Homo sapiens: one gene and its partners. The protein of the gene in region 3 purifies or fractionates together with the protein of the main gene of each other region. This does not show direct contact. Each region holds a gene or a part of one and is shown on either strand. Other genes may lie near its edges.

The links.
Region 1: the proteins of PCDH9 (region 3) and TNKS purify together in Homo sapiens (affinity purification with mass spectrometry; one large-scale study listed by BioGRID and IntAct). This does not show direct contact.
Region 2: the proteins of PCDH9 (region 3) and IKBIP purify together in Homo sapiens (affinity purification with mass spectrometry, with the first as the bait; one large-scale study listed by BioGRID). This does not show direct contact.

The regions. Positions count from the first base shown.
Region 1 is NC_000008.11:9,558,912-9,562,569, forward strand, and holds part of TNKS (poly [ADP-ribose] polymerase tankyrase-1), read left to right. Parts: intron 1-3,658.
Region 2 is NC_000012.12:98,634,762-98,638,419, forward strand, and holds part of IKBIP (inhibitor of nuclear factor kappa-B kinase-interacting protein), read right to left. Parts: intron 1-3,658. UniProt on the Homo sapiens protein: Target of p53/TP53 with pro-apoptotic function.
Region 3 is NC_000013.11:66,625,197-66,628,854, forward strand, and holds part of PCDH9 (protocadherin-9 isoform 1 precursor), read right to left. Parts: intron 1-3,658.

The DNA of each region.
Region 1 (3,658 bases), on a different chromosome or scaffold from region 3:
TGTATAGGCTGAGAAATGAAAAAAATTATCAGTTGACTGGTTATTATGATAGTAATTGAATTGTCACGGAATAGCTGTTTTAAAGATGAGAAATTGGTACAATCCCTTGGATGGAAAAATTTAAAAACTGCAGTTTATTTGTTCCAGAAATATTTTAGTGTGCTTAGATGATCGGGTGTTAAATACTGACACAATTGTGTAATGGCAAGCAGCCCTTAACCCTTATGGAGCTTACAGTCTAGTGGGGAAGCATAAACAACAACAACAACAAAAACCTATAAAGTATCTAGTGTCTAATCTAGAGTGATAGGAAACGTATATTATACTGTCTGTCCCAATATGTAATAGGAGCTCTTATCCTTGTTTTAGAGCAGTTAAGGAAGTCTTTGTAGGTAGATTTTTTTAAAGCAGGAATTAAAAGGGTGAGCCCAAGCTAGCCAAGCAAAGGTTGGAAGGGACGATGTTAACTAATGCTTTTATTTATTTTTAAAAATGAGTTTACAGTTCTATAGAATGAAATGAAACAATTTTTTTTTCTTTCCAACTTTTAGGTTCAGGGATTACATGTGCAGGTTTGTTACATGGGTAAATTGTGAATCTTGGGGGCTTTAGTGTACAGATTATTTCATCACCTAGGCAATGAGCATAGTAGCAGATAGGTAGTTTTTTGATTTTCAGCCTCCCCCATCCCTACCCTCCACCCTTAAGTAAGCCCCAGTGTGTATTCTTCCCTTGTCTGTGTCCATGTGTACTCAAGGTTTAGCTCCCACTTACTTAAGTGAGAACATGTGGTATTTGGAAATCATTTTTAAAGATCTCAGATGTGGTATGAAACCATATTTAAATCCTTATCACTTTATTTATATTACCTTAAGAATAATCATATTCTTTCCAGCAGTAAAATTAAGAATCCTTTGTATCCTATCTTGGATTGTGATAATTTGTTTAGAATATGGTTTAGAGACTGTGTTAATAATGGAATCATCCTATCTGCAGTTAAGACAAAATCTTGTTTCCATTGTTGATACAGGTTCTCAAAATACTATTTTTGATGCCTTTGTAAGATGGCTTTGTAAAGATGAGCCATTCTTTTATTGTTGACTAGAATTTATATGAGACTTTTTCTTCTACAGATGTGGTCCTTGACCCTGGTTTTCTATTATTTAAAGTATAGCAGTCAAAATAGTTTTATAAATAGTACCAATTTAGAGTGATACCTCCTTAGGATGGTTTCTAGTAGTGACATATTTTTGTTAAAGGACCCATATATTCTGAAGACGTCTCTTTTTATAGAAAAGTTTAAATGAGGTCTTTTTTTTATTAAGGCCTTAGTAAAACATTAAATTCTGAGATTTTATAGTATTTACATGAAATTGAAGAAATCTTGAAATGGGCTTCCTGTTAGTTAACATATACGACTTGGATTATGATAGGTAATGTGAGGTATTTTAAAATAAAAACTAGTTTTCTTTGTTGGGTTTTGTTTTTAATGGTATCTACTACAATACATATTTAACAGTACAGAGATTTTTCAACTCATTCCTGACTCTTCTCTAGATTTTTCAGCATGGCCATACTTGTCTTTTTTTTTTTTTTTTTTTTTTTTTTTTTTCATTTCTCGCCTTTGTACAAATGTCGTTCCTGTTAATAATAGAAGTCACCATATACTCTAGATTGTTGCCTATCAGTGGGTAATAAAATGAGTCAGAATGCTGCAGTCTTGGAGTGGGAATTATCTTACACTTCTCGTTGCCTGGCAAGATCCTTTATATTACTTGTAAGCAAATGCCCTGTCTGAGGATGTAAGAAGGGTCTAATTTGGTAATAGAAGAAAGGGACCTAGTTTCATAAATATCTTCCCAGACTTAAAATTGTTGATTATAAACTGGATTACCTTTTACTTAGTGTTTTCTTAAAACCTTAACACTTTTCTGAAGGTACCTCTTTAAAAAAAAAAGTTTACAGAGAACTTTTAGTTAGAAAGATGTGCAAAGTGTCTCTTTCTTTTACCTCAATGATACTGCTCTTTGGAAGCAAATGATTTAAAGAACAAATTAGCCATTTATAAGATGATATGTAAATTTATTGCTAATAGCAAAAAATTTGTAACAAGCCAACTGTTCAACAATAGAGAAATGCTTACATAAATTATAATACTGTACAATTTCTATTACATGTGTATTCCTACATATATGTTCTTTTATCCGTCAATCATCTTTTTATTAAAGCATGTGAGTGTAAATAGTAGGCATCTGTGCAGCTTCTCCAAATATGCTAATTTGCATATCATTATCTAAGTTCAGTATTTGTGTAAAGATTTATCTTTTAGTGTGAAATCTGTGCAAATCTTATGTGTACATTCACTGAGTTTTGACAAATGCAGATACATGTGTAACTGAACTTATGACTTTCCTTATAGAAACTTCAGAAAGTTCCCTCATACCCCTTATCTCAATCTTGTCACTACCCCTTTTCCCTCAGGCAACCACCATTCTGATGTTTTTTCCACTATAGAATAAGAGTTGCCTGTTTTAGAATTTCATATAAATGCAGTCATACAATATTTAGTCTTTCTGTAAGACTTATTTTGCTCAGCATGTTTTTGATTTTGTAACGTGTATCAGTAGTTTCTTTTTACTGCTGAGTAGATTTCATTATATGAATATGCTGCAGTTTGTGTATCCCTTCAATTGATAGACCCTTAAGCTGATTCCTGTTTTGGCTATTATGAATAAAGTCGCAATGAACATTCTTATAAAATCCTTTTTGTGGACACGGATTTTCTTTCTCTTGGGCAAATACCTAGTATTAGAATCTCTGGGTCTTAGGGTAGGTAAATGTCCGGTTTTATAAGAAACTGCCAACACCTTTCCCCAAAGTATATGTACCATTTTACATTCCCATCAACGATTTTTGATGGTTGCTGTTTGATTTTGCTCTTGTTGCCCAGGCTGTCGTATAATGGTGCGATCTTGGCTCACTGCAACCTCTGCCTCCTCGGTTCAAGCGATTCTCCTGCCTCAGCCTCCTGAGTAGCTGGGATTACAGGCGCCCACCACCACGCCCAGCTAATTTTTGTATTTTTAGTAGAGACGGGGTTTCACCATGTTGACCAGGCTGGTCACGAACTCCTGACCTCAGGTGTTCCATCCACCTCAGTCTCCCAAAGTGCTGGGATTACAGGAGTGACCCACCACGCCTGGCCTTATATATCTTTTATGAAGTTTTGTCCTTTTTTTTTCTACTGGGCACACTTCAGTTTTATTCAGTTTTGTTGGGTTATCTTTTATTATTAAGTTTAAGAGTACTTTATATATTCTGCATACTAGTGCTTTGTGGGATAAATGTGCTAATATTTTCTCCCAGGCTATGAATTACTGATTAATTTTCTTAATGAGAGTCATTTGAATAGAAATTTTAAATTTAATTTATATATTTATTTTATGGTTATTGCTTTCTCTGACTCATCACCTGGATAAGAACTTTTATCTGGCCCCAAGTCATAGAAGTTCTCATACATATCCTATGAAAATCTTTATGATTTTAGCTACATTTTATCAGATGTGACTATATCCACTTCAGTATTCTTATGCTGTGTGTGGCATTTTTCTATTCATTCACTTTCAATCAATCTGCCTTTATATTTAAAGTGTGTCTA
Region 2 (3,658 bases), on a different chromosome or scaffold from region 3:
TGCAGTGGCGCGATCTAGGCTCACTGCAAGCTCCGCCTCCTGGGTTCACGCTATTCTCCTGCCTCAGCCTCCCGAGTAGCTACGACTACAGGCGCCTGCCACCACGCCTGGCTAATTTTTTGTATTTTTAGTAAAGACGGGGTTTCACTGTGTTAGCCAGGATGCTCTCGATCTCCTGACCTTGTGATCCACCTGCCTTGGCCTCCCAAAGTGCTGGGATTACAGGCGTGAGCCACCACGCCCGGTATTTTTTTTTTTTTTTAGATGGAGTTTTGCTCTTGTTGCCCAGGCTGGAGTGCAATGGCACGATCTCGGTTCACTGCAACCTTTGCCTCCTGGGTTCAAGCGATTCTCCTCCTCAGCCTCCCAAGTAGCTGGGATTAAAGGCACCTGCCACCACGCCCCACCAATTTTTTAATATTTTTAGTAGAGATGGGGTTTCACCATGTTGGCTAGGCTGGTTTTGAACTCCTGACCAGTGATCTGCCCGCCTTGGCCTCCCAAAGTGCTAGGATTACAGGCATGAGCCACTGTGCCCAGCCCCAAGGTGGTCTTGAATTCCTGGCCTCAAGTGATCCTCCCCTCAGCCTCCCAAAGCGCTGGGATTACAAGTGTGGGTCAACATGTCCAGCCTAGATGCAGCTTTTATCAGTTTCTTTTGACAGATTTTCATGTGGTAGGTACTGGTTTAACTCATGCAAAGATGAGTAAAGCACTGCCCTTGTTCACAATTCACAGCCCACCAAATAAGATGGTGTGATATCTGTAATAGATGCATGCACAAGAAATATTTTAGAGGAGGACAAAGTGAAAAATTTAGAACAAGATCTTTGATCTCTACTGTTTTTCACAAGGCCATGATTGGGTAATATCTAGAAAATAGGTGTTTTTATGCTGAAATGTAGGCGAAACAAGAGTCGTCTATAAAAAGTATTTTAAAACTGAAATGTAGAAGAGTTGACTGATAAAAAGCAGTGGAGTAGAAGAGAGAAGTGATAGTAATTAGAAGTTGCAAAATAGCAGGAGGTGTGAAAAGAGGTATGAAAATAGAAAAAAGCCATTGCCAAAGTGACAATAGATCACAATCAGTGCAGAGTGTATAAACTGCACAATTGGTTATACTCAGTGATGTGACTCGTATAGGTGTACTTGAGATGTCACTCTAAAATTGGAGTTTATTCTTCATTATGGGTGGAAGCCCAAAAAGCTATCTCAATCTTCAAAACAACAAATCAACATCTGTTTATACAGGATTTGAAATGAGCAAGCATAAAAGAATTGTCTTGGATCCAATACCATTTTGTCTACTTTAACTCAATTCTTTAGGCTCAGAAAAAAACACTTGAAATTCTTTGCATATTGAGTCATCAAAACGCAATGGAGCAGAACCATAAGTACCTGCCTAAACACAGTCCTGAGACAAGTGGTTCAAAAGCTTTGCTACATATTGTAATAACCTGGCAGCTTTAACAAATCTGATGCCTGGGTCTCACAAAGATTCTGATTTAATTGGCTTGGGATGTGGCTTGGATGTTGGAAACTCAACAGCTTCTCAGGTAATCTAAGTGCACAGCCAAACTTAGAACCATACTGACTGACCATGTTTTGTGAAATTCATTTCCACTGAAAGGCAATCATTTAAAGATCCCAAGGATTAATGGAGAGGTGAAAGACTTTTCTGAGTAAATGCAGTTATCTGAACTTTGTGCATCCTTGCAAAAGTGGTAATGCTTTGAATTCATAAATGGCATCATTAGGCTAACCGTAGCTACAAAACTGTCCAAAGCTAAATTAGACAAATGTTTACAATACTGGAGGAAATACATTTCTTTTGATGATGCTGGCTAATTTCTATTATACGGGATCCCAGGTTACATTATTAGCACAGATTGACTTTTCTCCTGTGTTTAAATTAATAGGAACCTTTAAAGCTTCTGGTTATTAGAAAACACTATTATCCTAATTCTCTGAGATGGAAGGGTGAACATAATTCTTTTTTCATTGGCTGTTTCATTTCTGGCTTTTAGGATTTTTTTTTTTTCCCCCAGAGTATTGGATATCTAAGACCAGCAGATAGAGACCTTATTAAGAAAGAGACCACCCTAAAGAAATAAGAGTTGCCCTCCTCACGCCTTCCTGTCCCTCCCTGCCAGGGGGGAAAAAAAAAAAGTAAAAGAAGAAACACAGTTCATTTCAGGGACTAGTTTTATTATCCAATACTCCACCATAGATCTATACTATAGATTAGCGAGTTTATTCAGAATGAAATCATTATTATAAGAGACTTTCGTATGAAGGTTGATTCATTACAAAAAATACATTAATGAACTTTCTCAGAACTTCTTTTCAAATTCAAGCTTTAAACACAACCTGTGTCATGTTAGTGGAAATATCATCTCTGATAATTAGTAGTTTTTTTTGATTAGCCTCTTACTAAAATAAAAAAAAATTCATCCTTGCTACATGTGAACGGTGCATATAAGAAAAAAGTACAAAGCTGACTCAGCACTAGTGATGAAAAAAATGAAGTGATATGTGCTGTGCTGCGTTAAAATATATTTTATTTTTCCCTTATTTGTGCCAGACACTATTCTAAGTACTTGATAAATATTAATTCATTTAACATTAAAGAAGATGATTGATTTTTCTTTCTTTTTGTTTTTTTTGAGATGGAGTCTCACTCTGTCACCAGGCTGGAGTGCAGTGGCACGATTTTGGCTTACTGCAACCTCTGCCTCCCGAGTTCAAGTGATTCTCTTGCCTCAGCCTCCCGAGTAGCTGGGACTACAGGCGTGTGCCAACACACCCAGCTAATTTTTGTATTTTTAGTAGAGATGGGGTTTCACCATGTTGGCCAGAATGGTCTCGATCTCTTGACCTCATGTTCCGCCTGCCTCAGCCTCCCAAAGTGCTGGGATTACAGGCGTGAGCCACCGCGCCCGGCTTTTTTCTTTCTTTCCTTTTTTTGAGACAGGGTCTCGCTCTGCTGCCTAGGCTGGAGTGCAGTGGCATGATCTTGGCTAACTGCAACCTCCACCTCCCAGGTTCAAGTGATTACAGGCGTGAGCCACCGCACCCAGCCTAGATGACTGATTTTCTAGAAGTCAAGAAAATATGCTGAGAAAGCTGCTTCAGATCTGAAAAACTAAGCTTTCAAACTGGCATCCATGTTAGGGTATAAGGTCCTTTATTTCCTTTTTATGAGTCAGGGGCATATTCTAGTGAGAGCAGTTCCCAGTCTTCCCATTTAGATGAGAGTGAAAAACAAGCAATTAGGGTCTGCTAAAGGGTATACCTTCAAGTAGAAGGAAGAAAAGAACTATAAGTAATTCTGGACTTGGGGATTTCTATTTCTAGGATCTTGGCCTTTTGTTGGGGATTAATATCGAATGGAGGCAACGAATCATACTGATTAGGTGGGTGACTGGACTGCCTTAGCTCTGCCATTTACTAAGCTGTATAACCACTTTGGGCAAGTTAAATAACTTTGATGTTTCCTCATCTGTGAAGTGGGGATAATACCTTATTTTAATCTTATTTTTTAAAGACAAGATCTCACTCTATTTCCCAGGCTGGAGTGCAGTGGTGTGATCATGGCTCACTGTAGCCTCCCAGGCCCAATCCATCCTACCCCCTCAGCCTCCTGAGTAGCTGGGAA
Region 3 (3,658 bases):
ATATCATTTAAAAGCCAGCCCACACTCTTATATCTACAATTATCTCAAAATTTTGGTATCTTTTTATGATACTGAAGAAAGGAACAAACCAACAAAATTTTAGGTCACCATTAGAGGTTTTTAGGGTACAACATCATTCTGTAAGTTGATATTCAAATCAAATATGTATATTGCATTTCCTGTAAGAACGGTATTTCAGGCTAGTCAATAATTAGTGGAGGGAAGTTCTTCACATATGTTCTTTAAAACCACTTGGCAAAAAAGAAATAATCTCTTTTTCATATCTATCCACTGTACATTTAAATTGAATGCTGATGTAATCGTTTTATCAATAAACACAAATATAATTTTACACAATTATTTTTGATAATAACTTTGAAATGTTAATATATGTTGGGTTTTTTTTTCATATATACATATATGTATTCCTTTGCCTACTCCACTTTTGGCCAACATATAGTGGAATTTTTTTTTTTTTTTTTGATACACAGTCTCACTCTGTCACCCAGGCTGTAGTGCTGTGGTGCCATCTTGGCTCACTGCAATTTCCACCTCCTGGGTTCAAGTGATTCTAGTGCCTCAGCCTCCTGAGTAGCTGGGATTACAGGCACGCACCACCACACCTGGCTCATTTTTTTTGTATTTTTAGTAGAAACAGGGTTTCACCGTGTTGGCCAGGCTGGTCTTGAACTCCTGACCTCAAATGATCTGTCCTCCTCAGCCTCCCAAAGTGCTGTGATTAAAGATGTGAGCCATGGCACCTGGCCTATATGTTGGCTTTATAATTCATTGATTAGATGAGGATGAGATAGGATGGAGAACAGTAGGAAAGTAGTTAATTTGCAAAGTTGTACAGCTATCATGAGATTTTTTTTTCTTGTTGCTGAGGCAAAAAGAAAATAGAGGAGTTGTGCTTTTGAGGAAAAAAATATCAAGAAAATCATTGGGAGTCTTTGATCCTAGACGTTAAATACATTCAGTCAACCCGGTTGGGAAGAAGAAAGAAGTGAGAGGGGAGGGAATATAAAGAGGATAGATTCTGTGCCATGTTTGTTGAGCAGAACTCAGAGAAACCTAGAGGATAAAGACTAGAAAGTCCTTGAGGCTAGATTACATCGTAGAGTCCAGGGAGTCAGGAAGATCCCTAAAAGTAATGATCCATGCTGTCCATCTAGACATGGGAGTCCAAAGATAAACTCACTGAAACCTATTTACCTTCCCTATGGCATGAGGTATCAGCAATTTCCCAAAGAGTCCAGGAGGACTGGAATGAAGGCAGTCTCATTTGAGACCCCTCTAGGCAGATGAGACAATGGACATATAAGCAGACCAATGACCCAGGGTTGAGAATATTGCACTTCCTTTTGATGATAACGATCCTCTGGAATTGAGGTAAAAAAAGAACCGAAGTTTCTGTCATACCAATGCAATAGGAATTAGACATTTTTAAAAAATGGAAGAAAAAAAAGAAAGCTCTGTTTCCAGCACAAAAAAATTAGTGACATATGTGTCATACCTTATGTAGTAGAGACTGCTTTAGATTTACATAAACATTATTTACACAAAACCTATCAATTATTGCTTAATTTGCAAACAATTTGTTTTTGGCATTGCATGTAAAGACTATCATCATTTACTTATTGTTTTAATCAAGAGTTAGATATAATATAAAATCGATAATACTAATAACCCAGAAGTATAAACTTGGGAATAAAGAATACTATTGTAGGCCAGTATTATTAGATCAAATGCCACTGTGTGTGTGTGTGTGTGTGTGTGTGTGTGTGTGTGTTTAGAAGCAATAACCTATATTAAAGCCTGAAGTTTACAAAAATGTCTCCACATGATACTACCATTTGTATTAATTTCTTTGAAAAAATACCTACTGGAAATAGTTACTATAGAAATTAGTACCAGCTCTCAGTGACTTTTTTTATATGAACCATATTTGAAAAAACAGAAATCTAGATAAGTACAATCGAAATTACTTAGTACTTCTACAGATCATACTGACATCCAATAGAAACCTATTTTACCTGCTATAAAATCACAACTCTTCGGGAACTATCAAAGCCCGGTCAACAAATTCCACTGAATTCAAAGGGGACAATAGAGAACTAAATAGCAAAATTATTGCTAGAGATGATTACTTCATCAATATCACTGTACCTCACTTCACAAATTTCTCAAAGTTAATTACCAAAAATGTGACTGCAAAATTTAAAGGTAATATGTAATAATTCTATCCTAATATGAATGAACATTCAGTCTGACTCTCTTAATATTTCTAGGCCATTCTAATTAATTCTGCTCTAGACATTTACAAAGGAGGTTTAAATTTTATGTCCCATTAAACATCAAGAGAACTGCTGGCCTCTAGGGGCTCCCAGGGCCTCTCGCTTCTCCACTTTCTCTTTTCTCCCCTTCCCAATGATGAACAAGGCACTGTCACAACCTAAGAGCCCTGCTCTCTCCAGTTTAAAGACGTTTTAGTGATCATTATTCTTGTGAGTGACGTCACTGTGCTGGGTGAATGTTGGGCTGCCCAAGGTTGTGCTGTCCATTGGGTGTCTTTTTCCATGTGACTAGATTGGTAAAAACTCTAGAGATTTCTTGAAGCTAGTTTGAAAGGTTTTCGTTTGTTTGCTTTTATTTTCCTGGTTTAGGACCTCTGCTATCTTTTTCCATTTGGCACCTGGCCCATTGCCACTGCCTAGGTCGAAGTCACTGGGTAAATTGTTATATGTATTGGACAATATTTTGGCCTGGGGCAGCTTAGTTTAAGCATACTTTAAAAGCTAGGAAAAATATATTTTTTTCTTTTCCCTTTTCTATGATTGGAAAACTCAAATGTGGGCTTTCTTAAGTGTGGGCTTAGGAGAAAGCAGACCCGTATTGGTAAAAATTATTTTCTAGCCGAAAAAACAAAGATAAATACAAAACAAAACTTGTCTGTCCATTTGGTCTAGATATTTGGTCTAGATGAACTTACCAACCATCAACAACCTGCTACTTTTATCTCATTCATGTTTTATTTTTTTCTTTCTTGAACATATATTTCTCTTAGAGACTTCAGACTCTTAGACTGTGTTAGGCTCTGATTAAAGTATTCAAAGGATCCCTGAATCTCCGGACAAATAAACAGACAAACAAAAAATGAAATGAAATATTACCACATGATTCTTTTTAACAATAAATTTCTCATAATAACTTTATACATTTGCCTTTAATTTAGAATTTACTATTTCTAAAAACTAAGCTAGAAAACATAAACCAAATTTTTATTGTAATACATATTTTTTGAGACACACCCACACTTGAGGAAAAGGTGGTCTTGCTCTGTTTCCCAGGCTGGAGTGCAGTTGAGTGATTATAGCTCACTGCTGCCCAGACTCCTGGTCTCAAGTGAACCTCTTGCCTTAGCCTCCCCAGTAACTGGGACTACAAGCATGTGCTTCCATGCCAAGCTGTAATACATATTTAAGTGAGCCTTTGCACATAAGCCTAAGTTTTGCTTTTCTTCAAATAGATTTTCAGTAATGCATTATTTCTTATAAGAGTCAACAAATTTTTCATTTTTGTGCATATATATTGCTGCTATGATAGTGAAGGTATATATAACATAATTTTGCAATTTTTCCTGTACTCAGATACTTCT